Linked DNA regions of Homo sapiens. The protein of the gene in region 1 purifies or fractionates together with the protein of each later gene. This does not show direct contact. Each region holds a gene or a part of one and is shown in the gene's direction. Other genes may lie near its edges. The genes, in order: PEX5, LONP2, ACOX1 and TYSND1.

What was found.
Region 2: the proteins of PEX5 (region 1) and LONP2 purify together in Homo sapiens (affinity purification with mass spectrometry, with the first as the bait; 2 studies listed by BioGRID). This does not show direct contact.
Region 3: the proteins of PEX5 (region 1) and ACOX1 purify together in Homo sapiens (affinity purification with mass spectrometry; 3 studies listed by BioGRID, with this or other methods). This does not show direct contact.
Region 4: the proteins of PEX5 (region 1) and TYSND1 purify together in Homo sapiens (affinity purification with mass spectrometry, with the first as the bait; 2 studies listed by BioGRID). This does not show direct contact.

Annotation. Positions count from the first base shown.
Region 1 is NC_000012.12:7,192,665-7,199,688, forward strand, and holds part of PEX5 (peroxisomal biogenesis factor 5), read left to right. Parts: intron 1-6,346; coding exon 6,347-6,449; intron 6,450-7,024.
Region 2 is NC_000016.10:48,247,276-48,254,299, forward strand, and holds part of LONP2 (lon protease homolog 2, peroxisomal), read left to right. Parts: intron 1-38; exon of another isoform or gene 39-264; intron 265-4,855; coding exon 4,856-5,090; intron 5,091-7,024. UniProt on the Homo sapiens protein: ATP-dependent serine protease that mediates the selective degradation of misfolded and unassembled polypeptides in the peroxisomal matrix.
Region 3 is NC_000017.11:75,976,148-75,983,540, reverse strand, and holds the start of ACOX1 (peroxisomal acyl-coenzyme A oxidase 1), read left to right. Parts: upstream 1-4,374; 5' UTR 4,375-4,467; coding exon 4,468-4,576; exon of another isoform or gene 4,577-4,750; intron 4,751-4,847; coding exon 4,848-5,007; intron 5,008-7,393. UniProt on the Homo sapiens protein: Involved in the initial and rate-limiting step of peroxisomal beta-oxidation of straight-chain saturated and unsaturated very-long-chain fatty acids.
Region 4 is NC_000010.11:70,143,701-70,151,421, reverse strand, and holds the start of TYSND1 (peroxisomal leader peptide-processing protease), read left to right. Parts: upstream 1-4,721; 5' UTR 4,722-4,835; coding exon 4,836-6,001; intron 6,002-6,693; exon of another isoform or gene 6,694-6,937; intron 6,938-7,449; coding exon 7,450-7,580; intron 7,581-7,721. UniProt on the Homo sapiens protein: Peroxisomal protease that mediates both the removal of the leader peptide from proteins containing a PTS2 target sequence and processes several PTS1-containing proteins.

The DNA of each region.
Region 1 (7,024 bases):
CGGGGAGTCACATCATCATGGTTCCTGAATTTTTCTGAGATGATTAAAGGGACTGAATTGGTTTCTACCCCCACCATTTTAATTTATGTTCTTTCTTCGTTTGCTACAGATTTCAAGGTCTCAAGTCTAATTTTCCTTGAGAGCATCCATTGCTCCTCGCATCCTTTAGGATTGATTCTTCTTACCCGAAGCCTATCTGATCAGGGACAAATGTGTGTGAAGGAGGCCCATGTTTAGGATGGGCTTCTCCGCACACAAGAGAAAAATCCCAAATCTAAAAACTAAAACTCACCTTTAATAAGATCTGTGGGTCTCTTTTATCACGTGTCTCTTTCCCACCCATAAGTTGGAGTTAAGGTAGAACAGTAGGTGCTCTTGGCTTTAAGAGTGCTAATCACTTTATCTTCTTAAGCTCATTAGAACTTCACAGTAACAGTAACACAAGGTGGATATCCCACCCCCATTTTATAGATGAGGAGACTGAGATTTGGAAAAGTTAAATACTTTGTGCAAAATCATTGAATAATAGAGATGATATTCAAACTCATGTCTGTGTGGCTCTTGAGATTCTTTTTTTTTTTTTTTTTTTGAGACAGGGTCTTGCTCTCACCCAGGGTGGAGTGCAGCGGTGCAATCTGTACGCACTGCAACCTCTGCCTCCTGGCTTCAAGGGATTCTCCCGTTTCAGCCTCCTGAGTAGCTGGGACTACAGGCGTGTGCCACCATGCCCGGCTAATTTTGGTATTTTTAGTAGAGACAGGGTTTCACCATGTTGGCCAGGCTGGTCTTGAACTCCTGACCTTAAGTAATCCACCACAGCCTCCCAAAGTGCTGGGATTACAAGCGTGAGCCACCGCACGCGCCCTCACGTTGAGATTCTTTGTGAAATTGCCGCAAGTTAAAATCTGAACCATAGCAAAGACCCTCTCCAAGACAGAAACTCAGTTTTTCACATAAACCTTAGACTTAAGTGCTATCTCTTATCACAGAGAGGCTTCTGTTGTAATGTGGGCATTAGTCATTTTTGATAATTCAGAAAAATCATTGCTACTATGAGCGTTGAGATGGATGAAATTTTTGCTGTAATTACCTGAATTGCATGCAGCCATTGAAATCTTCCTTAACTTGAAATGAAAAAGAACTTTAGAAAAACATGTTTTATCTGTCTCACCAGTTAAATGCTCTTAGTAGAGCTCTTCTAGTATTTTGTAGATTCTTTTGGAATCGTGCCTGTTTCACAGAGGCAGAGACATGCAAACCTTAGAATGGGAGTTGAGCTGTTTGAAGTCTGCCTTCATAAAAATGTCTTATTGCAGCAGTATATTGCTTTGCATGTAGTAGGCCTCTGGTATTGAATGAATGAATTGAGATCTGGGAGAAAAAGCTAAAGGAAAGGAGTTCATTTTGTCGTAACTGACTTTTTTTTATTATCCTTCATTTTTAATTACAGCATTTGTGGTTGATACAATTGTATGGGTTAGCTATGGCTTTATAGATAAGTAGATTTTGAGATGAAAGAAGGTTATACTTTTTAAGTTCTTATTTTAAAATCTCCACTGTTAAGAGTCAAAATCAAGTTTAAAAAGAATGTTGCAGCTCAATTATTTAAATTTAAATTTTTTATTTGGAAGTACTTAGTTTCACTGGAAGTTGAAAAAAAAAATGTATAGGAAGGTTCTGTATACCCTTCACCCAGTCTCCTCCAGTGGTAACATTTTACATAGCAGTTATGCAGAGATCAAAAATCAAGAAGTTGCCCTTGTTTCAATCCTCAGAGTTTATTAGGTTTCACCAGTTTTACATGCCCTTATTTGTGTGTGTGTGTTTTTTGCAATTTTATTAAATGTGTAGATTTGTGTAAGCACCATCATGATCAAGATACAGAACTATTCTCTCACCACATGAAGTTCATTTTTTTAGCTTACCTTATTTTGTAATGGAATCCCCCCGTCTTAAATCTTCTGGGTCAAATAATTCTCCATCTTGTGTTTGCTCAGATCTAGAGATAAAACACATCTTCAGGGTTCTTAAATTTAGACAGCTTCGGTTGACATGGTATGTGAGGTTCATATGATAATCGTGAGAGATAAACCTGCACTTTCATGGGAAAAGCCATGGATAGCAGTAGCAGAAGATAATTGGCAACAGATCTTTTCTGGATGTTGGAGGAGAGGCTTTGGAATAACAGTCTCATTGTGATGTTTTCTGCTTTTGTTATAGGTTTGCCATGAGCAGACTAATGATAATAACTAACATTTGTTACTGTATTCATTGGTTTTCACCGCAGCCCCTACTGTTATCTCTGCTTTAAAGATAAGGACATGGAAACTTAAGAAGGTTGAGTAACTAGTCTGAAGATGCACAGTGAATAAGTGATGGAGTTAGGATTTAAATGTGGGTAGACTGACCCTACAACTTGTATTCTTCTCCACAGTGCTGCTATTTAGCAGACACAGAAACTTTCATGAGTAAGAGTAGCAAGTTCTGAGTTTTTGACTTTTGAGCTTGGGGAAGATGTGCCTAGAAGGAATGAGTAAACAACGAGAAATTATATGAGGTGCACATTTTGAGTGGGGTATTTGGTGTCTAGGTTATTCTCACTCTACTAATCTGTATGACCTCAGGCAGTGCATCCCCTCTGTAGACCTTAGTTGCCTTGATCTCAGATGTATCCACATGGATCTGATTTTCTGTAGGAATTTCTCAAAGATTGTGAAGGCAGTGTGTTACTCTTTTGATTCTTTCGGTTATTTGACTCTTGTTGGAGTAGGTTCCCAATGCCAAGAAATTCTGGGTCTTGTGGCGATTTAATCTGGCCAACTACCAAATTATAGGTATTTGAGGATAGTTTTTCTCAGCTCTGGGATTTTTTTTCTTAAACTGCCTCATATCTATTGTTAAGTCCTCATGTCTGTTGTAAAAATTCAAAGGTGCTTTGTGTTTTTTCTGTTTTTTTTTTTTTGTCCTTGAGAGGACCATTTCATAGGAATTTGAAATGTTTTCTGTGAATTTGAGGAGCACTTATGGCCAGAATATGCTTTTGCAAAATACTCTAGTTGAGAGTTAGAAGTGTTTGGAGAGTTGAGGAGGTAGTAGTTATTTTTCAACAGAATGGAGCTAAGAATTTCAACTAAGAATGGAACTAAGGAACTAGGAGATCTTAAAGTCTCTTTGAGTATTAAGCATCTCCTTTCCGTCTCCACACTTGAGGCAACAGTCTAATTGGGGCAAATGGAAGAGAAATGCTTCCTGTAAGAGCTAGTGAGCAGAATCTGTATTTAATTTTTGAGAGTCCTTGAAATTAACAGATGGATCTATGGTCAAAAAAAATTGCCAACCATATTTCTTATTACATTATACATTATATATTATATATATTATATATACATTTTACATTATATATAATGTATATATAATGTATTTCTTATGTTATAACGTATTTCTTATTACATTATGTTATATATAATGTATTTCTTATTACATATGTTACATATAATGTATTTATTACATTATATATTATATATAATGTAATATATGTTATGTAATAATTATATATGTCATATATAATTTAATTATATGTCATATTTAATTATATATGTCATAATTTATATATGTCATATATAATTTAATTATATGTCATATATAATTTAATTATATATGTCATAATTTATATATGTCATATATAATTTAATTATATATGACATATATAATGTAATAATTATGTGTCATACATATATGTGTCATATATAATGTAATAATTATATGTGCCATATATAATGTAATAATTATGTGTCATATATAATGTAATAATTACATCATATATAATGTAATAATTATATATGTCACATATAATGTAATAATTATATATGTCACATATAATGTAATAATTATATATGTCACATATAATGTAATAATTATATATGTCACATAATGTAATAATTATATATGTCACATATAATGTAATAATTATATATGTCACATATAATGTAATAATTATATATGTCACATATAATGTAATAATTATATATGTCACATATAATGTAATAATTATATATGTCACATATAATGTAATAATTATATATGTCACATATAATGTAATAATTATATATGTCACATATAATGTAATAATTATATATGTCACATAATGTAATAATTATATATGTCACATATAATGTAATAATTATATATGTCACATATAATGTAATAATTATATATGTCACATATAATGTAATAATTATATATGTCACATATAATGTAATAATTATATGTCACATATAATGTAATAATTATATGTCACATATAATGTAATAATTATATATGTCACATATAATGTAATAATTATATATGTCACATATAATGTAATTATATATGTCACATATAATGTAATTATATATGTCACATATAATGTAATTATATATGTCACATATAATGTAATTATATATGTCATATAATGTAATAATATATGTCATATATAATGTAATAATTATATATGTCATATATAATGTAATTATATATGTCATATATAATGTAATTATATATGTCATATATAATGTAATTATATATGTCATATGTAATAATTATATGTCATATGTAATAATTATATATGTCATATATAATGTAATAATTATATATGTCATATATAATGTAATCATATGTCATATACAATGTAATAATTATATATGTCATATACAATGTAATAATTATATATGTCATATACAATGTAATAATTATATATATGTCATATACAATGTAATTATATGTCATATACAATGTAATTATGTTATATATAATGTAATAATTATATATGTTATATATAATATAATAATTATATATGTTATATATAATGTAATAATTATATGTTATATATAATGTAATTATATATGTTATATATAATATAATAAGTAGTAATTACTTATTATTTATAATTAGGTGTATTCTGAGAGTCTTGATCTTTGTTTTTCACATTTTGACATTTCATGCTCAGATTTTGAGACTACTTTGTTGACATTATTCAGGCAAAGTTTCAGTTAAAATGGAGTAGAAGTTTTTGTACTTTAATACCGAAGGGGTAGTAAAAGCAAGGGTGGTCAGATCTTGAAACTGGGGACAAAGACTGCTAGTATCAGCTAATATTTTCACACCCCTGCCCAAATGTCCCTCTTTAATGCAAATTGGAGTTAGTAGGTTCTCAACAAGAGAGTGGAGTTCCCCCTTGGGAACTGTCCTTGTCATGGGCCAGGAGTGGGGAATAGCAGGGGAAGGTGGTGGCAGACTAACTAGTAAGATTAGTTCTGGACACAGGGCAGAAGGAAAGAACACCGTAGGCTTGTGCCTTCTCTTTGTTTCCTTGTGTTCTTTAGTGCCCGCAGTCAGTCTCCTTGTTTTTTTTTTCTGGCCACAGGATAGTAAAGGGCAAAGTCCTGGAGGATGAAAAACAGTTCAGCACCCTCATTGAGTTTGTTGCCTTGATAGGTTAATTCTGATGTTGCAGCAGTCCCCTTTGTCACTAGAGCTTCTGAGACAGTTTCTAAAATTAGACTGAAAAAACATAGCTACTCAAAGATAATCAAAAGTGAGAAAAGTCAGAATAGTGTTTACTTCTGGGGGCTGGGAGACTGAGGGAGCCTGTGAGGGAACTGTAAACGTTCTGTATCTTGATCCGGGTGGTGGTTATGTGAGTGTATCAAATGTGGAAGTTAATTTAGCTGTACACTTAAGTTTGGTAGACATTATATGGTTTCATATTTGTATATTACATTTCAATTAAAAAATGAAAAAACCCACCAAACATCCATAGGGAAGAGCAGACCTATGTGTCTTTAATTCTAGCCTAGCATTCCACTTCTCTGATTCTCTTGGTAGGCAAATTACAATGAAATAAGGCTCCTTTGGCCGGGATTGTGTGAACTCTGGGTAGAGGGAGAACAGACCAGTGCCTTGGTTAAGGAACAGGAGCCCTTCTGTGCTCCCTTCACTCCTTACTGGCTCCCTGCTGTACTTCTGAGGAAAGTGAAAGCCCTTCCGCTTCCTATTTCTTATTGAAATATCTTGCACTTCAAGAAAAAGAGTTTGGTTCTTAATCCTTTCCTGAGATTCCTTATTTGATCTCCCGTTCCCAACTCTCAGTAAATTTCTGCCCCAGGCTCCTTGAGAATGGGTTGGATATTGAGGATGTTGAAAATTTAGTACTATATTCTTTTGACCAGGGGTTTCTGAGGGAGTCAGCAGAGTTTTGTCTGCTTTGGTGTGGCTAAGAGGGTCAGTTGAATATGGGCATCTCTTTCCCTTTCCTTGATCCCACACTGAATGAACCTGTGTGATTTCCCCACTTCTCTGCTCCTTGCAGACCCCTTGTCTGTGTCCCCTGCCCGCTGGGCTGAGGAATATTTGGAGCAATCAGAGGAGAAGCTGTGGCTGGGAGAACCTGAGGGAACAGCCACCGATCGCTGGTGAGTTCAGATACCTCTTTCCGAATCCCGTGAAAGGAGTATGGACAGTTTTCCCAGCCTCCTCCATCCACGTTCTCGAACCAACTTACTTTATTCTTTTTTTTTTTTTTTTTTATCATTCTTGGGTGTTTCTTGCAGAGGGGGATTTGGCAGGGTCATAGGACAATAGTGGAGGGAAGGTCAGCACATAAGCAAGTGAACAAAGGTCTCTGGTTTTCCTAGGCAGAGGACCCTGCGGCCTTCCGCAGTGTTTGTGTCCCTGGGTACTTGAGATTAGGGAGTGGTGATGACTCTTAAAGAGCATGCTGCCTTCAAGCATCTGTTTAACAAAGCACATCTTGCACCGCCCTTAATCCATTTAACCCTGAGTGAACACAGCACATGTTTCAGAGAGCACAGGGTTGGGGGTAAGGTCATAGATCAACAGGATCCCAAGGCAGAAGAATTTTTCTTAGTACAGAACAAAATGAAAAGTCTCCCATGTCTACTTCTTTCTACACAGACACAGCAACCATCGGATTTCTCAATCTTTTCCCCACCTTTCCCCCTTTTCTATTCCACAAAACCGCCATTGT
Region 2 (7,024 bases), on another chromosome or scaffold:
GCCTGTTTCCACGCACAAGTCTGTCCTTCCCCAGTTACCTGCTTTTCTGTATGGTAGCCCAGAGGCCAGAAGAGGGGCTCTGTTCCTTTCTCTTGTTTCCTTTGCGCTATCCAGGTGACGCTGGCACAGCCTTCAAAGAGCAGCAGAAGTAATTTGCTCCCAGCGTTCTTTGCCACACAGAGTGGCAGGATTAGATGTTGACTTACCTCTGCCACTTCCTTGGTGGTTTTGAGTAGTACAGTCCCTTTCTGCACGTTAGTGTGCAGGCATGTTGCCTGCAGGAGCCTTTTTAAAGGAGGAGCTTTGGACTTGTCCTGCAGTATAGAACTTGGCTGGCATGCTGACCCAGGGCACCCTGCATTTTTCTGCTTAGTAGAACTGCATTTTTAGTGCTTCCTGAGTGACCCATTGTTTTCTTAGTGAAAAGGGGTCATAATTTAGTACTACCTGTACAATATCCTTTCAAGCATTTCAAGATGGTCATCCAGCTTTCTTCCAAATTTACACTTTTCAGGGTACATGGCTTCATTTCCTCATAGTGCCGACTTCTCAGTCTCCCTCACCAGGCTGGTGTCAAACTTGTGAGCTCAAGTGATCCTCCTGCCTCTGTCTCCCAAAGTGTTAGGATTACAGGCGTGAGCCACCATGCCTGGCCTATGTTTATAATTCTTGTAGGTAGAAGTGGTACCTATTGTCCATTGTAATGAGAAAAAAGTAAAATTTGTCTTAAAATATAATTAAGGAACTCAATTTATTAAATTTAAATTTATCCTTTAAATTTTAAATTTAAATTTATTTCTTAAATTTATTTCTATTACATTTTCTTGTAACCATGTACACCTAAGTTGTTCTACTTTAATTTTTTTGAGACAGGGTCTCACTCTGTCACCCATGCTGGTGCAGTGGTGCCATCTCAGCTCACTGCAACCTTTGCCTCCCAGGTTCAAGTGATCCTCTCACCTCAGCCTCCTGAGTGTCTGGGATTACAGGCATGTGCCACAATGCCTAGCTATTTTTTTTTTTTTTTTTTGGTGGAGACGGGGTTTTGCCATGTTGCGCAAACTGGTTTCGAACTCCTGAGCCCAAGTGATCCACTTGCCTCGGCCTCCCAAAGTGCTGGGATTATAGGTGTGAGCCACCATGCCATGTTCTACCTTTTTGAATCTCATTTACTCACTTGTAATAAGGAAATAATACTACCTTCTTCATGGGGTGAAGGGAGGTATAAAATGAAGTATACATATGAAAGCCTTTTGAAACTGCAAAGCATTCTAAACCTATATCCAAATGGGTAGTTTTAAATGTAGATTTTCACAAAAGGGGATTAAAGAGAGGAGTGGGGAGGCCCCATATTATTCCAACACGGGCTGAACTGAACTAACATCATTGCAGGAAGGTCTTGGAAGATTAAAGATTCCAAGAAAAATTAAGGGCTTTGAGTAAAAAAATTTTTTAAAAGTGGCTGGGCCTGGTGGCACGTGCCTGTACTCCCATCTACTCATGATGCTGAGGCGGAGGATTACTTGAGCCCAGGTGATCGAAGCTGCAGTGAGCTATAATCGTACCACTGCACTCCAGCCTGGGTGACAGAGCAAGATTCTGTCTATAGGAAAAAAAAAAAAAAAAAAAGCAAGTGCTGGGCATATAGGCTGGAATTAGATATTTACATAATATCCTCATCTTGGAAAACTTTTTCCAGTAGTGCTGCTTTTAGATTTTCCCACTACTGCAGTTGATGGTTCTTAAATATGTTTGGAACTCTTATATTATTTAGGTCAGTTTCCAAATTACACAAATTGTAACCATTGTAGTCAGACCTCACTTGAATGAAAACAATATTTTACAAACTCTGAGGGTAGATTCGAGTTAGGATTTGGATTAAAACATTATCTTAAAACCTCTGAGGGTAGATTCGAGTTAGGAGTTTCAAAACTTCTTTGAACAATATCATAATTAGGATGTAGATTTACAGAGCTACTAGCTAAAGGGAAGGACACCAGTCATTGGGATGTATAAGTTTGGATCTGTTGCAAAATTAAAATGCTGCCTTTTGAGCATGCCTAATAATGCACATACAATAGAAGAGCCAGAATTTTTAGAAAAATGACTGACTTGATATACAACCTTTTGTATATCATAGAAGGAAAATATTAGTTGAGTATTTTGTTTATTTACCTGTTTGTATATATAAAACCTGGGGCCCAATATACAATAGATTCTTTTTCACTATGCTTTTCACCCACAGTGTCTCACCAGGTACTCTGTTTCTAGCCATCTATAATTTCATAGATGTTTTTCTTTAAAAGGGATGTATTCTAGGCTGGGCGAGGTGGGTCTTGCCTGTAATCCTAGCACTTTGGGAGGCCAAGATGGGAGGATTGCTTGAGGCCAGTAGTTGGAGATCAGCCTGGTCAACATCATGAGATCCCATCTCTGTTAAAAAAAGAAAAAAAAATTTTTTTAAAGGGATAATTTCTAGTCAACTATAAGTGATTTTAAGTAAAAAGCAATTAAGGCATGTATACATCTGTACCTTTTGTAGGCATAGTATAAATTCAGCTTAATCTCTTCAGTTTGGAACATCTTCCTTTCACAGCAAAAATATTGTATTTGCTTTATAAGAAAACCCCTTTTGGCCAGGTGTGGTGGCTCACGCCCGTAATCCTAGCACTTTGGGAGGCTGAGGTGGGTGGATTACCTTAGGTCAGGAGTTCGAGACCAGCCTGGCCAACATAGTGAAACCCTGTCTCTACTAAAAATACAAAAATTAGCTGGGCGTGGTGGTGTGTGCCTGTAATCCCAGCTAGTTGGGAGGCTGAGGCACGAGAATCCCTTGAACCCAGGAGGCAGAGTGCAATAAGCCGAGATCACGCCATTGTACGTCAGGCTGGGCGACAGGGTGAGACTCCCTCTAAAAAACAAACAAAAAAACCACAGTGGCTCACACCTGTAATCCCAGCACTTTGGGAGGCCAAGGTGGGCGAATCATGAGGTCAAGAGATCGAGATCATCCTGGCCAACATGGTGAAACCTCATCTCTACAAAAAATACAAAAAATTAGCTGGGCGTGGTGGTGTGTGCCTGTAGTCCCAGCTACTTGGGAGGCTGAGGCAGGAGAATCACTTGAATCTGGGAGACGGAGGTTGCAGTGAGCCAAGATTAGGCTACTGCGCTCCAGCCTGGTGACAAAGTGAGACTCCGTCTCAAAAAAAAAAAACAAAAAACAAAAAACAACTCTTTAGCATCACCTTTTAGCAATGACATAGCCCAAATAATTAAATTTGTCTCCTGATCGGAGATTTGGATTTGTCTCATCTCTCTTTCTGGTTCCTCCTTGGTTTCTACTTTGTAAACCCTTTAGGCCGGGGATCCAGTTTCTTGTCTGTGGATGTTTTATATACAAACAGGACTGTGAGCTCTTTCAGCATTGTACAAACAGTGATGAATATCATCTGCAATTAATTATGTTTAAGTTATTCTCTAATCAGTTTAGAGGTGGCTCACTTCCTCAGGCAATCTGAGTGGGCTTTCAGGAAGTGGGAAATATTATCTACTATTGATTGAAGAAAAGCAGCCACAACACAAATAAGTCAAAATAATAGCTAATTGCTAAATAATTTCAAGTTTTTTATGTATGTGATTTTTTTCCCTCACCAATTTATCTTCTCAGTTGTTTGGCTTATTATTTAAATCAGTTTTTATTGTAAACATGGTAATGACTGAAAGGTAAGAAAAGGATAGACGTAGTTCAGAATAAACTGAGTGGCAGAAAGAAGCCAAAGGCTATGTGTAATCTACGGAATGAGTAATTTATAAGGAAGTAATCAAGAATTCACTGTGTATAGAAGTAAGCAAGTTCACTCACATAGTCACATACTGTATTACATGATTTATTATCTTTGAGATGGGCAGGTGTGGTGTTCTTCTATTACCGCTTTCCTAGGGTGTTGAGAGTTCTAGTCCTTCTATTTTCTTTTCTGGAATTACCACTTTTCCTATGGCTGAAGGGAGAAAATATTATTTATTTTGGGATCTGGAATTGTCTTCTCAATGTTGATTTTTGTATTTTATATAACTGACTTAGTTTGGATGAGGCTTCCTTTCTGTGAATTAAATTTATATGTGACTTGATCAGAGTTGTATTTGCTGATGAGGAGCTGAGACTTGAAGCCTTTTCACCTATTGTTAGGTAAAATGATTACCACTTAGAACTAGGTTGAGACCTTTTGAGATGTGGGTCTTTCTTTAGCTCTCCTCAGTCTATGGCAGTGTGTGGACTGTAATATTTAGCCCTCACACTTAGAAATTCAGTGTTAAGGGCATATATATAAGTTCCCAGTATGTGATGGCAGCTTGTGATAAGGTGGGTATGTGGAAGTTTCATAGACTGATTATGTAAGAAAACTGACTTGATGTTAGTAGCACAACTGGTGTTGGAACGGAGATTTCTTAGATTGGTTTATGCTATTTATATTTAAATGTATTTAAATTGATAATATTTATCCTGGTATAAGATTGCCTTATTCTTAGTTGACAATGTTAATTTAAGATATGTAATTCTCAGCTGCTTTTCTCTTACATTTTTACGCTTGAATAATCCAAGTGTTTACAAATTCCTACCTAATTTTTTAAAAGAGGTGCAGATTATAGTGAGATGGTCTGCTTTGCCATATAGCTGAGGGTAGTGGCAGAAGAGGCCACATACTGGATGCTAAGTTAAATAGAGAAAAAATTTATTTACACTTCAGATGTCTTTTGCTTAATGAATGTATCAGAAAAGCCAACACTTTCTGAAGTGAGTTTCTGTTCTACCGTATTGAATGTTTGTAATACCGATGTTTTGTGTGTTTTTCAGGATTGGCACAGCTGCACTGGCCGTTCAGGTTGTGGGCAGTAACTGGCCCAAGCCCCACTACACTCTGTTGATTACAGGCCTATGCCGTTTCCAGATTGTACAGGTCTTAAAAGAGAAGCCATATCCCATTGCTGAAGTGGAGCAGTTGGACCGACTTGAGGAGTTTCCCAACACCTGTAAAATGAGGGAGGAGCTAGGAGAACTATCAGAGCAGTTTTACAAATATGCAGTACAAGTAAGTTGCTTTTATTTTTTCTTAAAACCCATTTTTCTTTGGTTCTTTTGCTTTCCTAAGATATGGTGAATCTGTTGGATAGTGAAGTTTTAGGACAGTATACATTTAAATGAGTTAGTAACATTATATATTAATTCTGATTTACTCTTATCTGGGGTTGTACCTAAATCATTCCAGGACATATTGGCCTACCCTTTCTAAAGTTTTCCAAATGTTATTTCTACAGCTTTCCTTCTAACTTCTACTGTCTCTAAACTAGATAATTATTAAACCTAAATATTTAAAGCTAAAAAACGAAATACTGCACAGAAGCTGTCTGTCACTAAAATATCTAGGCACCATTTATATAAATTACAATATATTACTTCAAAAGTCAAGATCACATTGTCTAGCAGTAACTATGGTAGATCAAGCCTGTGGTGGGCTGATTTCAAGTATGGTTAAAACCTTGATTAACTAGAATGCTGGGAAGGAAGCACATTTTAGATATGCATTAAATATTTGACTCTTTAATTCTAGTTCTTTTTGGTTAACTCTAGATAGAACAGAAAGCTCCTATTCCCACCCCATTTTGTTTCAAACCTTAATGAAACATAAAATTATAAAGTATAGTCTTCTACTTTTCTATTAGTTTAATCCAGTGACTATAACTAGATCTATGAGGATCAGATAATGTTTAAAAGTCACAATTATAAATACTACTGATCATTGAAATATGTGTGGGGCAAGTGTTCATAGCCAGTGGTATTTGTATCTGATGTGGCATTTGAAGAGCCATACTTACAGTGTAATGAACAATAACAGAAAAATAGTAAATTTGAGGGCCAGGTGCGCTGGTGCACACCTGTAATCCCAGCACTTTGGGAGGCTGAGGTGGGTGGATTGCTTGAGCCCAGTAGTTCGAGATCAGCCTAGGCAGCATGGTGAGATCCCGTCTCTACAAAATGTACAAAAATTAGCCGAGTGTGATGGTGCGTGCCTGTAGTCCCAGCTACTGGGGAGGCTGAGGTGGGAGGATTACTTGAACCTAGTAGGTGGAAGTTGCAGTGAGCCAAGATTGCATCACTGCATTCCAGCCTGGGCAACAGAGCGAGACCCTGACTCAAAAAAAAAAAAAGAAAAATAGAAAATTTGAATCTGTAATTTCTATATGGGCTGAAAGAAAGCACTTTGAGGAAAGAAATTTCAGTTTGAAAACTGGAATAAGTGAATATACTGCTTAGGAATAAAGGAGATTGAGAGAAATAGAATTTCTTTTTCTTTTCAGCAGTGATGTTCCCTGGGTCTTTGTGCCTCTATTGGACATAGATAGCTTCATAGCCTCTTTTGCTTTGCTTTTACTTCTTTGTACTTTGAATCTAGAGGAACTTTTTAAACTTGTAAAGATTTTGCAGTGACATTAAAGGAATTTTTAGAAATAAATAGATCACCACACATCTTACTGTCATCATGCATCAAATTTAATTTTTGTTCGTCTTCTGGGCTCAGTTCATATTCAATTATATGTTTTGTTTTTGTATCCATGTCTGATGTTCATATTAAGTACTTTTGTTAATTTCATTGAGTTAATGTATACTAATTTTATAATTTCTCTTTTTAGACATTAAAGTTATTTCCAATTATTCTCTTTCATCCCCTTCTGCATCTACTTCTACTTCTGCATCTCTTCAATGAACTTCTTCAATAGCATCCTGTCTCCTAGTTCTTCTGTCTTGAACCTTTTCTCTTCACTGAGCCTTTCTAAAAGAAGTCTGGGGCATCCCATTCCCTTGAGTAAAAGACTTTAATGGCTATAGGATGGACACCAAATTTCTTAGTATAACATTAAGACCGTTTGCAACTTGTCTTGGGCCTATCTGTCTTGCGTCAACTCTAGTTATCACCTCACTGACACCCTAGTTCTAGCTCTACTGAATGTAAAACAGCTTCACATT
Region 3 (7,393 bases), on another chromosome or scaffold:
TAGAGGTGGCATAGGCTATGAAAACACTGGTTGTCTAAAACAGGGGGAGATAACAATTATGAAGGGCTAGTGTACACGAGTGTGTGCTCACTAACATGAGGGGACTAAAGGAGTGTCCCCACTAGATGTTCCTGTTTTTCTGGTGGATCTGGGGAAAAAGAGGTGGGGAGGATGCTGGGGTTGCTATGCAATTCTCACCGAGGGAGGAATTTGCTGGTATAATGATTATACATTTTTCTTTCTTTCTTTCTTTCTTTTTTGAGATGGAGTCTCGCTCTGTCTGCCAGGCTGGAGTGCAGTGGCGGGATCTCGGCTCACTGTAACCACTGCCTCCCGGGTTCAAGCGATTTTCCTGCCTCAGCCTCCTGAGTAGCTGGGAATACAGGCGTGTGCCACCATGCCCGGCTAATTTTTGTATTTTTAGTAGAGACGGGGTTTCACCATGTTGGCCAGGCTGGTCATGAACTTCTGACCTCAGGTGATCCACCCACCTCGGCCTCCCAGAGTGTTGGGACTACAGGCGTGAGACACCTCACCGGGCCTCTTCCTTTTTTCTTTCTTTTTTTTTTTTTTGAGCCAAGGCGGGCAGATCACTTGAGGTCAGGAGTTCGAGACTAGCCTGGCCAATGTGGTGACACCCCGTCTCTACTAAAAATACAAAAATTAGCCAGGCATGATGGCGGGTGCCTGTAATCCCAGCTACAGGGAAGGCTAAGGCAGCAGAATTGCTTGAACCCGGGAGGCGGAGGCTGCAGTGAGCCGAGATCATGCCACTGCACTCCAGCCTGGGCGACAGAGTGAGACTCTGCCTGAAAAAATAATAAATAAATAAATAAATAAAACTATGATCAATGCTTGAGCCTAAGAGTTTGAGGCTGCAGTGAACTATGGTTGCGCCACTGCATTCTAGTCTGGGTGACAGAGCAAGGCCTTGTCTCAAACAAAACAAAACAAAGCAAAACTATGATCAAATACATGTGTATGCCTTTTCTCCTATTAATCACTTGTGTGGTATTCCTGCCAAAAATGCATCATCTGAATCTAATCATGAAGAAATATCAGACAAATCTGAATTAAGGGACATTCTACTGTAGGTGCCAAGGGGCCCTCTGAAGTTTCGCTGCAAAAAATCAACTTACAAAAGGCAGAGTAATAGTCAAAAATGTGTACAAATTTATGTAACATGTACATATGGGAGCCTTCAGAAGGAAGACCCAAAGATACAGGGGAAATTGTACATTTTTATGCAAATGATTGAACATAAAAGGTATGATCTAATGCTGATAGACTGAGTGGGGAGGCCCAGCAAGGCCTGTCTGTCTAGATTCTTCTTGGCCTCTTGGAACAGGCATTCCTTCCTTCTGGGTGTGGGGGAGGACCCTCTCTGGAATGGAGTCTTATGGCCTACAGTCAAACAAGCTAGGTCAGATAATTTCTTTTTGGCCAGTTTTTACACCAAAAGAAGGAGGGAAAGTTAAGAGTAATATATTTAGGGTTTTTTTTGTTTGTTTTTTGAGACAGAGTCTCACTCTGTCGCCCAGGCTGGAATGCAGTGGTGCAATCTCGGCTCACTGCAACCTCTGCCTCCCCGGTTCAAGCGATTCTCCTGCCTCAGACTCCCGAGTAGCCGGGACTACAGGCACATGGCACCTCGCTCGGCTTTTTTTGTATTTTTAGTAGAGACGGGGTTTCACCGTGTTAGCCAGGATGGTCTCGATCTCCTGACCTCGCTATCCACCTGCCTTGGCCTCCCAAAGTGCCAGGATTATAGGCGTGAGCCACCGCACCCAGCTTATATTTAGGGTTTTATGGCTGGCTTTGGGGGTAAATGACTCTGTTTTCTATGACCTGCCTTGGGGAAGAGGATTCTAACTTCTCTGGCTAGGCTCGGGGGAGAATGCACCTGAGGGAGAGGAGGACAGAAGGTAAAAAAAAAAAAAAAAACAACTTGCTTTGTGGGTTGCTTCTGAGGCCTTCATTTTGGGGTATTGTTTTCTGAGACCCAACACTACAAAACAATGGGCTTATACACTTCAAAAGTGTTAATGTCAGCCAGCCAGGCGCAGTGGCTCACGCCTGTAATCTCAGCACTTTGGAAGGCTGAGGCGAGCGGATCACATGAGGCCAGGAGTTGGAGACCAGCCTGGTCAACATAGTGAAACCCTGCCTCTAATAAAGACACAAAAATTAGCCAAGTGTGGTAGTACATTCCTGTAGTCCCAGCTACTCTGGAGGCTGAGGCATGAGAATCATTTGAACCCAGGAGGCGGAGGTTGCAGTGAGCTGAAATCATGCAACTGCACTCCAGCCTGGGTGACAGAGGAAGACATCATCTCAAAAGAAAAAAAAAAAGCGTTAAAGTCACAGAAGAAAAGTTCTTTGTTCTATTCTTGTAATTCTCGTGTAAATTTGAAATTATTTCAAAATAAAAACTCAGCAAATTTAGCTCTTCATCTAAGTCTTTTCTATTCAATGCTAAGTACACCCCTTATCATTGTTACATTAAGAGCAATTGGTTTCCTAGAATATTAGAACTAGAAGGTCAGCTGTCAAGCAGCCATTTGTTCACTCCACAAAGATTTCCTGAGCACCTTTAGCGGGGCAGGCACTGTGCCAGGTACAGAGAATAAACTAGACACCCTCTCTGCTGTTGAAGGGGCCTGAGATCAGCAGCTTAATAAGACAAATGAGGATCCTGAGGTCCTAGGGGTTAAGAGTGTGTATTATAGTTCTATTATTCAAATTATGAATGTTATGCATCTCTCGTAGTTTTACTTCTGAGAAAACCAAAGTCATAGTATTACACAGACTACAGACAGGCTAGGCGCAGCGGCTCACGCCTGTAATCCCGGCGCTTTGGGAGGCCGAGGCAGGTGGATCAACAGGTCAGGAATTCGAGACCAGCCTGGCCAACATGGCAAAATCCTGTCTCTACTAAAAATACAATTAGCTGGGTGTGGTGGCGAGCCCCTATAATCCCAGCTACTCGGGAGGCTGAGATAGGAGAATCGCTTGAACCCAGGGGGTGGAGGTTGCAATGAGCTGAGATCATACCACCACACTGCAGCCTGGGCGACAGAGCGAGACTCCGTCTCAAGAAAAAAAAAAAAAATGACTAGAGATGATTCAACAAATCCCTGAATCTCCCTTGTCTACAATCCCACTGGGCAGAACTGTTTTTGTTTTTTGTTTTTTTTCTGTAGAGACAGGGTCTCACTATGTTGCCCAGGATGGAGTGCAATGTCACAATCTTGGCTCACCGCAACCTCCACCTCCGGGGCTCAAGCCACCATCCCATCTCAGCCTTCAGAGTAGCTGGGACTACAGGCGCATGCCACTACACCCAGCTAATTTTTTGGTATTTTTTGTAGGGATGGGGTTTTGCCATGTTGCCCAGGCTGGTCTTGAACTCCTGGGCTCAAGTGATACGCCCGCCTCGTCCTCCCAAAGTGCTGGGATTCCAGGCGTGAGCCACCGCGCCCGGCCCTACACTAGGTTTTAACAGTAAGTGTGCATTTCCCACTTTGATGACGGTGATGGCGAAAGCAAAGAAGTCTGGATTCCAAGACCTCTAGTAACTGCCAGGTTGCGGGGGAAAATGTCTGGTTTCCCAGACAGAAGGCTTAGAGCAGCACCGCCCGCTTGGTCTCATTCTAAGTCCCCGTCCACCCCTTGAACAGCGCTCACAATCCCACACCCAGGGCCCCGGAACCCACGCCTCTGCCAGTAAAGACGCCATTATCTTAACAAAAGGTAACTGGAGCCTCTCCCCAAAGAGACTGGTTCCCGTCCCATTCTTCTCCAATCCGGGTGGATTTGGCAAAAGCCCAAGTGACCCTCCCTAGCAATTCCGCAAAGCCCCATCTCCCGCCCCAGACTCCAGAGTCTCCCGACCACTCTCATTTCGGAGAGGCCTAGGGGCACGGACCCGGAAGCGTGACAGAGGCCGCGGGGTAAGAGGGGGGCAAGTGCAGGCGCAATCCCTCCTCAGCCTCGTTGTCCCGCCCCCTTCCCAAGGCCCCAGCCAACCTGTTCTAGGCGTCGCCGGTCCTCGGATTTCTTCTTTCCGCCTCGCGTGGTCACGTGACGGGGGAGGGGCGGGATACAAAAAGTGCTTTATTTTCCCACTCCCCGGACGCCCAGCAGGGCAGTTTCTTGACCTTCGGAGCCCCTTTCCCGAGGATCCGCTCGGGAGCCTCCCCTGGCCAGGAGCAGGGGATTAGTCTGCCCCGCGACCGGCCCCAGCCACGACGCGGACATCGCCCCCTCTGTCTGGGCCGCTGTCACTCACGCGCCAAAGGGCCACGGAGAAAGAAGGGGCGGGCCGGGGCGGGCCGGGCGAGCGGAGGCGGGGACTTGCGCCGTCCTGAGGCTGCCTCCTAGGGTCCGGCCGGCGCTGGAGCTGCGGATTTAGATTGTCACTGCCACCTCGGTCGGTGCTTACTTCGCTGCCAGCTGGTCGTCGCCATGAACCCGGACCTGCGCAGGGAGCGGGATTCCGCCAGCTTCAACCCGGAGCTGCTTACACACATCCTGGACGGCAGCCCCGAGAAAACCCGGCGCCGCCGAGAGATCGGTGAGGGCGGCGGGCGAGACCTCCCTCCTTTCCCGAGAAAAGCTGGAGACTCCCTCGATGCGGAGTCAGGGGCGCTGTGGGGCCTAGGCCCTCTGGCCCAGCGTTAGGGGAGCCGGGACCCCCACTTCGAGGAACAGCCTGTGTCCCTGGTGGGGGGATATCGCCATTCCCCAGGTGTGTCCGCGACTCTGAAGCCTATTGTGATTCAGGGAGGGTGGAACGGAGGCCCGAGTGTCTGTCTGCCTTTTAATGCCCTTTAACCCCCTTTCAGAGAACATGATCCTGAACGACCCAGACTTCCAGCATGAGGACTTGAACTTCCTCACTCGCAGCCAGCGTTATGAGGTGGCTGTCAGGAAAAGTGCCATCATGGTGAAGAAGATGAGGGAGTTTGGCATCGCTGACCCTGATGAAATTATGTGGTTTAAAAAGTAGGTATGCCTTAGAACAGAGCAAGTGTTGTTAAGCCTAAACTTTACAGCTGCGGTCTATGGTGGCCTTTCATCACCGTGCTTGGTGTTTGAAGATGCAAACTGGCATATTTTCATGCAACTTTATAAAGTTATATGTGTGGCCGGGCGCGGTGGCTCACGCCTGTAATCCCAGCACTTTGGGAGGCCGAGGCGGGCGGATCACCAAGTCAGGAGATCGAGACCATTCTGGCTAACACGGTGAAACCCCATCTCTACTGAAAATACAAAAATTAGCCGGGCGTGGTGGCGGGCGCCTGTAGTTCCAGCTACTCGGGAGGCTGAGGCAGGAGAATAGCGTGAACTAGGGAGGCGGAGCTTGCAGTGAGCCGAGATCGCGCCACTGCACTCCAGCCTGGGCAAGAGTGCGAGACTCCATCTCAAAAAATAAATAAATAAATAAATAAATAAAGTTATATGTGTGAAAAATAATGTGATCACTTTTGTATCCAAGCCTTTTCGTGGGATGACGTGTTTGTAGAATGCTGATAATAAATGGAAATGCAGGAGTTTTTGTTCTCAAGAGTACAGTTTCAAGGATGTTGTAAAAGCATTGTTCTGCCCAAGCAACTCAAATTTGACTGATTTAAATGCAGAATCATTTTGCTCTTTGTAAGGAGGACTGCTAAAATTCTGAATCTGGGAGCATTTTTTTTTTTAGTTGCACGACCATTTAAATATTTTGGAGCAATAGCAGATTATATTATATGGTAGTGTGGACCTGGATGAAGAATGATCTGTGACGCCTCTGAATGAATAGAAAGTCTAAGAACCCAGTAGTTCTGAATCCATGACAGTGCTTGAATGGTTGTCTTGTGCATATGAGAGAGACGTCATAAAAACCTGCCTTGGTTCTAGTGTGGAAGAGAGTATATCCTTTTTTCAGACCATGTGTTTTGTTGTGTTTTTTGTTTTTGTTTTTGTTTTTTGAGACGGAGTCTCGCTCTGTCGCCCAGGCTGCAGTGCAGTGGCACGATCTCGGCTCACTCCAGCCTCCACCTCCCGGATTCAAGCGATTCTCCTGCTTCAGCCTCCTGAGTAGCTGGGATTACAGGCGCCCGCCACCACACCCGGCTAATTTTTGTATTTTTAGTAGAGATGGGGTTTCGCCATGTTGCCAGGCTGGTCTCAAACTCCTCACCTCGTGATCCACCCTGCTCCACAAGGAACGGTAAAAATAAATAAAAATAAGGACTTCGGGCCGGGCACAGTGGCTCATGCCTGTAATCTCAGCACTTTGGGAAGCCAAGGCAGGTGGATCACTTGAGGCCAGGAGCTCGAGACCAGCCTGGCCAAAATGGTGAAACTCTCTCTACTAAAAATACAAAAATTAGCCGGGCCTGGTGGTGCGCTTCTGGGGTCCCAGCTATTCAGGAGGCTGAGGCAGGAGAATCCCTTGAACCTGGGAGGCAAAGGCTGCACTGAGCCGAGATCACGCCACTGCACTCCAGACTGGGCAACAAAGAGAGACTCTGTCTCAAAAAAAAAAAAAAAAAAAAAAAAGACTTTTTTGCCTTAACCTAAACAAACACTATTACATGATCCTAGTACAAGATTATTTTGGCCTATAGCATTTTTTTCTCATTTATTCCTGGGCATTTTCTCTTTTAGGTTTCTCCATTTTAAAGGAACTCCAGTATTTTCATCGGTAAAGACTAAATCGTATGAGTGGTGTATAGACTAGAACCAAGCTAAATAGAACATGTTGCACGTTCTGCCTTTATGGTAATAATGGTCACTGCCTCTAGTGCCTTTGGTATCGATTTTCAGCTTGACTTGGGTTATTTTTGTGAAGATGAAATGGTTTACTCTGGCACTTTGGACTTTCCTCAGAGCTCCACTCAGTTTTAAACGAAAAAATTTTGTTTATTTATTTTTGGTAGTTCAAATCAGCATACTTCCAAATGGTCTGTTTTGTTTTTGAAGTTTGTAACTCATGGCTGTGGGGATATTGAGATAGAGTAACTCCTCCTAGAAGATTATGTTACTGATACCTGTGTTGTGTTTGTAAATTTGAAAAAATTAGTAAGATTTTATTCCTTCTTGAAACGTCAGGAAAAAAGTGGGTTGAGTGTGTGTGTGTGTGTTTGAATGGGTGGTGCAGTGCATTTCAAAGCTGATAGAGATGATTTCATAACCTGTGACCTGTTGATAATGTGAACCAGACTCGAGTGAGGTCACAATGAAATAGAACAAAGTCTTTTATGCGGGTTAAAGATTCATGGACACCGGGAAGTTGTTTTGTGTATCATTTTTCATGTGAAGTATTAAAGTACAAACTTTAACACACCCTTTGACACACTTCCAATGTCCTTAGGATATGACAAGGAGATCAGTTTTTAAGTAA
Region 4 (7,721 bases), on another chromosome or scaffold:
CAGTGGGCTTTAAAATTTCCATTTGCAGAATTTGGTCTCTCAGGCTGTTTGGGAGCTCTTTTTTTTACATTTTTTCTCCTTTGACACCTATTTTATTGGTGTTTAAAGTAAAGGTTAACATCTGTAGCTTTTCCAGGTTTTTTTTTTTTTTTTTTTTTTTTTGGTATGAAATTGTCTTTCTCCATTGCAGAAATAAGCTAGGGAAACACTAACCCAAAAACTTTCTGTAGAGCTGTTCCTTTGGAGGCAGCATCACTTATTGGCAGTAAAGACTCAGTATAAAAGCACCGGCATCCCTACTTGGGTGATGGGGATTAATTTTATAGCATTCCATTTTCCTAGTGCCACATGTGAAATTGGATTTTGATGATCTTAATCTATATTCTACCCTTATAATAAAAGATCAAAAGATATATCTCCTATGAACAGATTGGAGATAGGAGATGAAAAGTTGGGAGGATGTCTTTATTCTAATGTGAGGGTAGGGAAAATGTGGATAACATTACTGGGGTGAGGGAGGCATTGTTCTTTAGTTGGAGTTCTCATTCTTATTCTCCAGTACTGACTTGTGGGGAAAGCATACTTTTTCACTGCCAGGTACTGAATGCAGAGGCTCAGTGAAGTATATATGTGGGAAGTGCATGCATTTCGTTTATTAGCAAACATAGCTGGATTAAGACAAAGTTGTTGGTTTGGAAAGGGGTTAAAGCCTTAAGTGAACAAATCTAGCTAACAGTGAATGAACTAGGTAATATAACTTGCATATTTTTAATTTCCTTTGGTTAAAGGTCCCCCATACTTCTCTGTTCGGAGACATGAGAAGTATGATTACTTCAGTGTTAGTTTTCTTAATTTTTTTTTTCCCCTATTTGTCCCTTGTCACTTTGTTGCAAGCTAGAAATCTGTGGGTTATACATAGGGCAGCTCTTTGTGAAAGTGGTTTATTCCACTGGAGAAAGGGGATTGAAAATCAGTTAGAACCAATGTATTTCTTGCCCCACGGAACACTATTCCTATAAGATAGCTGAAAGAAGCTGCTGTGAGGAGCTCAGCTCCAAACACAGGATCAGCACCTTGTATAGGAATTCCCATGAATTATGACTTCTCATTCTGTTTTATCAGAGTGCATATATGTCCTACTTCAGGAAAAGTAAAACAGTCATTTACGAAAGAAAGTCAATCTGTATCCTAAGCATTTTAATAAAAAGTTAAAACAAATACGCTATTTCCTTTTTTTTTTTTCATTGGTTTGTTCTGAGCTCTGAGTTTGAACAATGCCGTTTATTTGGGGAGGCAACCAAAAGTTCCCTGCATAGAGGAAGAGACATTTAGGGTGCGTGTGAGATACTTGAATTTTGCCACCAGGAGGGGGAAAAAGGCTGGGGTACTAGAAGTAATAGATTTAGTACTACTTGAGAGATTTGGAACATGCTGTGGACCCAGGGTTGTTGGTCATCTCTGCAACAGGATGGGGATGGCAGATGTTTGAGCAAAATCTATATTAACATGCTAGCAAGGACTAGTTCTAGTTTAGCTGTGTTTCACTCATTTTACACAGAATTAGAATTGGCCAGGTGTGGTGGCTCACGCTGTAATCCTAGCACTTTGGGAGGCTGAGGTGGGTGGATTGTCTGAGCTCAGGAGTTTGAGACCAGCCTGGGGAACAGGGTGAAACCCCATCACTACTAAAATACAAAAAAATTAGCTGGGCATTGTGGTACATGGAGTAGCTCCCAGCTACTCTGGAGGCTGAGGCGGAGAATCGCTTGAACTAGGAGGTGGAGATTGAAGTGAGCCGAGATCATGCCACTGTACTCCTGCCTGGGTGACAGAGCAAGACTCTCTCTAGCTCAAAAAAAAAAAAAAAAAAAAAATCAATTAAATGCTACATTTGGCAAAATGAGAAAGAAAGAATTTCCTTTACTAGGCTTGTAGGAAGACTGCTTTTACAAAAACCCAAATGAGATCATAAAACTAAAGTACTGGGACAAACAGTGGGAAACAGTGCAATGGGTTCTTTTCAACCAAGTATTAAAGTATTGGAGATATTGCCGGGCGCGGTGGCTCACGTCTGTAATCCTAGCGCTTTGGGAGGCCAAGGCGGGCGGGTCATGAGGTCAGGAGTTCAAGGCCAGCCTGACCAACATGGCAGAGCTCCGTCTCTACTAAAAATACAAAAATTAGCCAGGCACGGTGGGACGCACCTTTAATCCCAGCTACTCAGGAGGCTGAAGCAGGAGAATCGCTTGAATCGGGGAAGCGGAGGTTGCAGTGAGCCGAGATCGCGCCACTGCACTCCAGCCTGGGTGACTCCCATCTCAAAAAAAATAAAAAGTACTGGAGGTGTCCTGTTGTCCTTGTTACTGTGAAAGGATGCCATGGGTTGTATGGGCAAATGAGTTGTTTTGTTTGAGGCAGAGTGGAAAATAAGATTAGGCTCAGTCCATGAGCCTAGCACTCAACAGATCTTACTTTGGCGTTCTGGCTGTGACTTGGGACTTCTTTTTACCATGGTCTGCTGTAAACACAGAAAAACCCAATGCCTAACAGTTCATGCTGGAGTCTTGAGCGTTGAGGGAGAATCACTGGACTCGAGAGAGAAAGTTTGTTTGTTTGTTTGTTTGTTTGTTTTTTGAGTTGGTCTCACTCTGTCGCCCAGGCTGGAGTGCAGTGGTATGAACATAGGTCACTGCAGCCTTGACCTCCTGGGCTTAAGTGATCCTCCCATCTCAGCCTCCCAAGTAGCTTGGGACCACAGGGTTGCACCACCGTGCTCAGCTAGTTTTCAAAATTTTTGTAGAGTTAAGGTCTCATCATGTTGCCCAGGCTGGTCTCAAACTCCTGGGCTCAGGAAATTCTCCTACCTCAGCCTCCCAACGTGCTGGGATTCCAAGTGTGAGCCCCTGTGCTCCACCAAGAGAAAAACTCTTTGATTGCTAGGAAGTTGGGATAAAGAAATTGTGCTGTGATCAAGCCACCTTCTGTGTCATAGAACCAAAAGAAGACCGCCTGCTATGGCAAGATGGCCTAATTTTATTCCTGCCTCATACTATCATGGATAATCGTTTTCCTTTCTCTAGCAGGTTTGTGTCACTGGGAGTACTGGGAGCATTATCCTGTGTTGTGCTGGGGTTATACCAAGCAGTGTTAACTTTATTTAAAGAATTCAGGCAGAAAGATTAGAGAATTTAAGTAGCAATTGTATATGGTAAGCAATACAGTAACCTTAATAAAAATTAATGATGGCCGGGTACGGTGGCTCACGCCTGTAATCCCAGCACTTTGGGAGGCCGAGGCGGGCGGATCACAAGGTCAGGAGATCGAGACCATCCTGGCTAACACGGTGAAACCCCGTCTCTACTAAAAATACAAAAAATTAGCTGGGCGTGGTGGCAGGCGCCTGTAGTCCCAGCGACTGGGGAGGCTGAGGCAGGAGAATAGCGTGAACCCAGGAGGCGGAGTTTGCAGTGAGCGGAGATCGCACCATTGCACTCCAGCCTGGGCGACAGAGCGAGACTCCGTCTCAAAAAAATAAATAAATAAATAAAAAATAATGTGTATTTTATCAATTCAGTGATAAAGCAGACCTTTGTAAACTGTCTAGCTTGTGGTGACTGATTGAGGGTATCATGAAGCTCCGCGCCCCCCCACTCCCCGACATACTCGTTCATCCTCCTCTGTCCTAAAGCGTACTTCTTTGGAAAAGTAGAGCAGTTTATGTTAGTGTACACTAGAGATGGTAAACTATGCCTTGTGGGTCAAATCGGGCCTGCTGCCTGTGTTTGTATGGCCTGTGAGCAAAGAAAGGTTTTTACATATTTAAATGGTTGGAAAAAATATTTAAAGAATGCTATTTTTGGACACAAAAAATTGTATGAAATTAAAATTTCAATGTCTGTATCTTTTTATTGGGACACAGCCACCGCCATTCCTTTAGCTTTTGTATGCAACAGCTGCAGAGTTGACTATTTGAGACAAGTTGTATGGTCCCCCCAAACTGGAACTGTTTCCATTCTGGCCTTCTACAGAAAGTATTTGGACCCTGGCCTAGATAAATCCTGGCTGGTGGTTATGTTATGTGAAATGTGCACACTGTAAAATATAGGCCTGTATGATTAAAATTTTTGATTTCAGCTACTGTTCATAGTCGATTTAAAGGGCAATTTAATTTACAGCAAATCCAGTTTCTCGGAGATTTGTGTTGGGGCTTTGGCAGCAAAAAAAAATCCTAGGAGTAATCTTGAGAGTTCCATGCCCCCTAGTGGATTGCTATAGGGTTTACTTTTAAATTTTCAAAACACTGAATTGGCCAAGGATTTCCTTGGTCCATATTATCCCAAGGGTCAGAGGCTGAAGGTCGCCTAGACCTGGGCAGATGCTCACAGGTACTGTCGTGGCCTGGGCAAATCTAGGCACGTCAGCGCTCATTTCTATTCCCTTTCCCACATTCCAGCAAACGAGACTAGGCTTGAAGGGACCCACCCTCCTCTCCTCTGATTCCTCGTGACGCCGCACTCCTCTTACTCTCCCCGGGGCTCATCCGGGGGAATGGGGCAGATTATGTCCCACCGGTTGGACAAACTAACGAGGGCGGGGAAAGGAAAAAAAAAATCAGAATAGGAAGCCAATCAGAGCTCGGTACAAGCCCAGCCAATCGGGTCGGGTCAATTGGGGCTTAGCCAATCGGGCTCGATGAGGAAGACGTGAGTCAGAGCTTGCGCCTCTCGCTTCCAGCTGTGGGTGGCGCTAGGCAGCTTCAGCCGGACCGGGTAGGGGTCCTCGCTCGCTAGCTTGCTGTTTCTCGGAGAAGCTCCCGAGTGTCCGGCCTAGAGGCCATGAGAAGGCAGTGGGGGTCTGCCATGAGGGCGGCCGAGCAGGCGGGCTGCATGGTGAGCGCCTCCCGGGCCGGACAGCCCGAGGCGGGCCCGTGGAGCTGCAGCGGGGTAATCCTGAGCCGTAGCCCGGGCCTGGTGCTTTGCCACGGGGGCATCTTCGTCCCCTTCCTGCGAGCTGGCAGCGAAGTCCTGACCGCGGCCGGCGCCGTCTTCCTGCCTGGCGACAGTTGCAGGGACGACCTGCGCCTGCACGTGCAGTGGGCCCCAACGGCCGCGGGTCCCGGGGGCGGCGCGGAGCGGGGCCGCCCAGGGCTGTGCACGCCCCAGTGCGCGAGCCTCGAGCCCGGCCCACCTGCCCCGTCCCGCGGGCGTCCCCTGCAGCCCCGGCTTCCTGCTGAGCTGCTGCTGCTGCTGAGCTGCCCGGCCTTCTGGGCCCACTTCGCGCGCCTCTTCGGGGACGAGGCAGCGGAACAGTGGCGCTTCTCGAGCGCGGCGCGGGATGACGAAGTGTCGGAGGACGAGGAGGCGGATCAACTGAGAGCGCTGGGCTGGTTTGCGCTGCTGGGCGTGCGGCTAGGCCAGGAGGAGGTGGAGGAGGAGCGCGGGCCAGCCATGGCGGTGTCGCCTCTCGGGGCCGTGCCCAAGGGTGCGCCATTGCTGGTCTGCGGCTCCCCTTTCGGCGCCTTCTGCCCCGACATCTTTCTCAACACGCTGAGCTGCGGGGTGCTCAGCAACGTGGCCGGCCCACTGCTGCTTACCGACGCACGCTGCCTGCCCGGCACCGAGGGCGGCGGCGTGTTCACCGCGCGGCCCGCGGGGGCGCTGGTGGCGCTGGTGGTGGCGCCGCTCTGTTGGAAGGCCGGCGAATGGGTGGGCTTCACGCTGCTCTGCGCCGCCGCCCCCCTTTTCCGCGCCGCCCGCGACGCGCTTCACCGCCTGCCGCACAGCACCGCTGCCCTGGCCGCCCTTCTGCCGCCAGAGGTGGGCGTCCCGTGGGGTCTGCCCCTCCGAGACTCCGGGCCCCTGTGGGCAGCCGCGGCAGTGTTGGTGGAGTGCGGCACCGTATGGGGCTCCGGAGTGGCTGTGGCACCCCGCCTTGTAGTGACCTGTCGGCACGTGTCCCCTCGGGAAGCAGCCAGGGTCCTGGTGCGCTCCACCACCCCCAAGTAAGCCCGCAGGGCTGACGCCACTTCATCCCTTTCCAGGTCTCAGATCTGGGTCCAGCCCTAATACTCTTGAGTATTGTGCAGGCCTTTCTTGTGTCACGCGGATGCTTTGGGCGTGTAGTGGGTAGAGACCTGGAACCCTCCCCTCATCCTTTATACCCAGAACCCCTGTGGGGAGAATCTGGGGCAAGGTGTCAAGCTCGAAGCAGCTCTGGATTTGGGTACTGTGGGACACCCTGAATCCGGAACAGGGCATCTTTGAGCTCCCCTCAAAGGCTGAGTTTCTTCTGGGCAGCTTCACTGTCTGATAGCCCTGCACGCCATACCCCTCGGTTCTCTGGCCCTTTGAACAGAGATTCCCTAACCCTGCTGCTTCTCCTCTGAAAGTGATAAGGTCCCAGAGGCCCAGGATGGTGCTCTCCTGGGGTAAGGAGATGGGTATGTTAATTTTATCCATCTTTTAGTGCTTAGCCAGAGCTTCCCGTCTGAGTGAAACGTGAGTTTCTACGTAATCAGAAGGTAGGGGGGTGGCCCACGCAGCTGTACATGGTTCAGCCCAGCCTTGCAGCCCAGGCTTTTCCAAATCTCTTCCTGAATCCCCAAGCTTAGCCAGGTGTGGGTAACACTGCCCAGTTTTGCCATAGGTGTCCCCACTGTGGCCTATAGGACAGCCATGACTTTATAGGGAAGACTGATGATGAAGGTTTGCCTATGGTGTGTGGCCCCCACCAGATTCCTTCCACTCCCCCCACATGCCCCTTGCTCCTAAGGAGACTGCCAGGTCTGTTGGAAGCTACCCCTGCAGAGTGTGTAGTAGGACGCCCCTGTCTGATCCCGGGCAAGTCACTTAACCTGTCTAAGCTGCCTCCCCGGGAGTTGACGCTGAATGTCGTGGAACGGAGCCTGTCACGTCGTGTGCTACAGAAGTGTTAGCGTGTACGTAAATAGGGACCCAGAGGAGTGAAACCATGTCATATCTGACCCACCAACTGACGGGATTGTTGTGGGTATCAACGAGGCAGTGAAGGAAAGTGTTGTGTTTGCCTTGGCTCCTCCCACTTTGTTTGGTGTTGGGAATGTTACTGAGCGTCTCTGGGCCTCAGTTATACCACCTAAAATGGAGATAATGCCAGTGCCTAGTTTATAGGGTCGTGAAGACTAAATAAAGTGATGTCCACAAAACACTAACACCAAACCTGGCCCACAGTGCTCACTAAGTGTCAGGTTGATTATTCAGGTACAGGAAGCTTTAGAGAAGTAGCACAGTTTGTCAACCACCTTTGGAGATACCACAGAATGGTTACATGACTTGCCCAGAGTTGCCTGCTGGTCGATTCAGGGCTGATACCCAGATCTTCTGACTTTTACTGTCACTCTCAGCTCCTTGATTTCTCCCAAGTACTGAGGAGTCAGAAAGCTAGCCTGTCATTTGTTTCCCTTGCTCCCAGGAGTGTGGCCATCTGGGGCCGTGTGGTATTTGCCACTCAGGAGACATGTCCCTATGACATAGCAGTGGTGAGCCTGGAGGAGGACCTGGATGATGTCCCCATCCCTGTGCCCGCTGAGCACTTCCATGAAGGTAAAGGACGAAGGGCGCAGCCTGAAGGAGGGCCCCTCTGAGCTAGGGTGGGCCTCAGGAAGGAGAATCAGTGTTGGGCATTCTCATGAAGTCAGGGTAGCATTGGTCAAGGTCCTTGGAGGCCTGCCTCCCTTTTTGTGC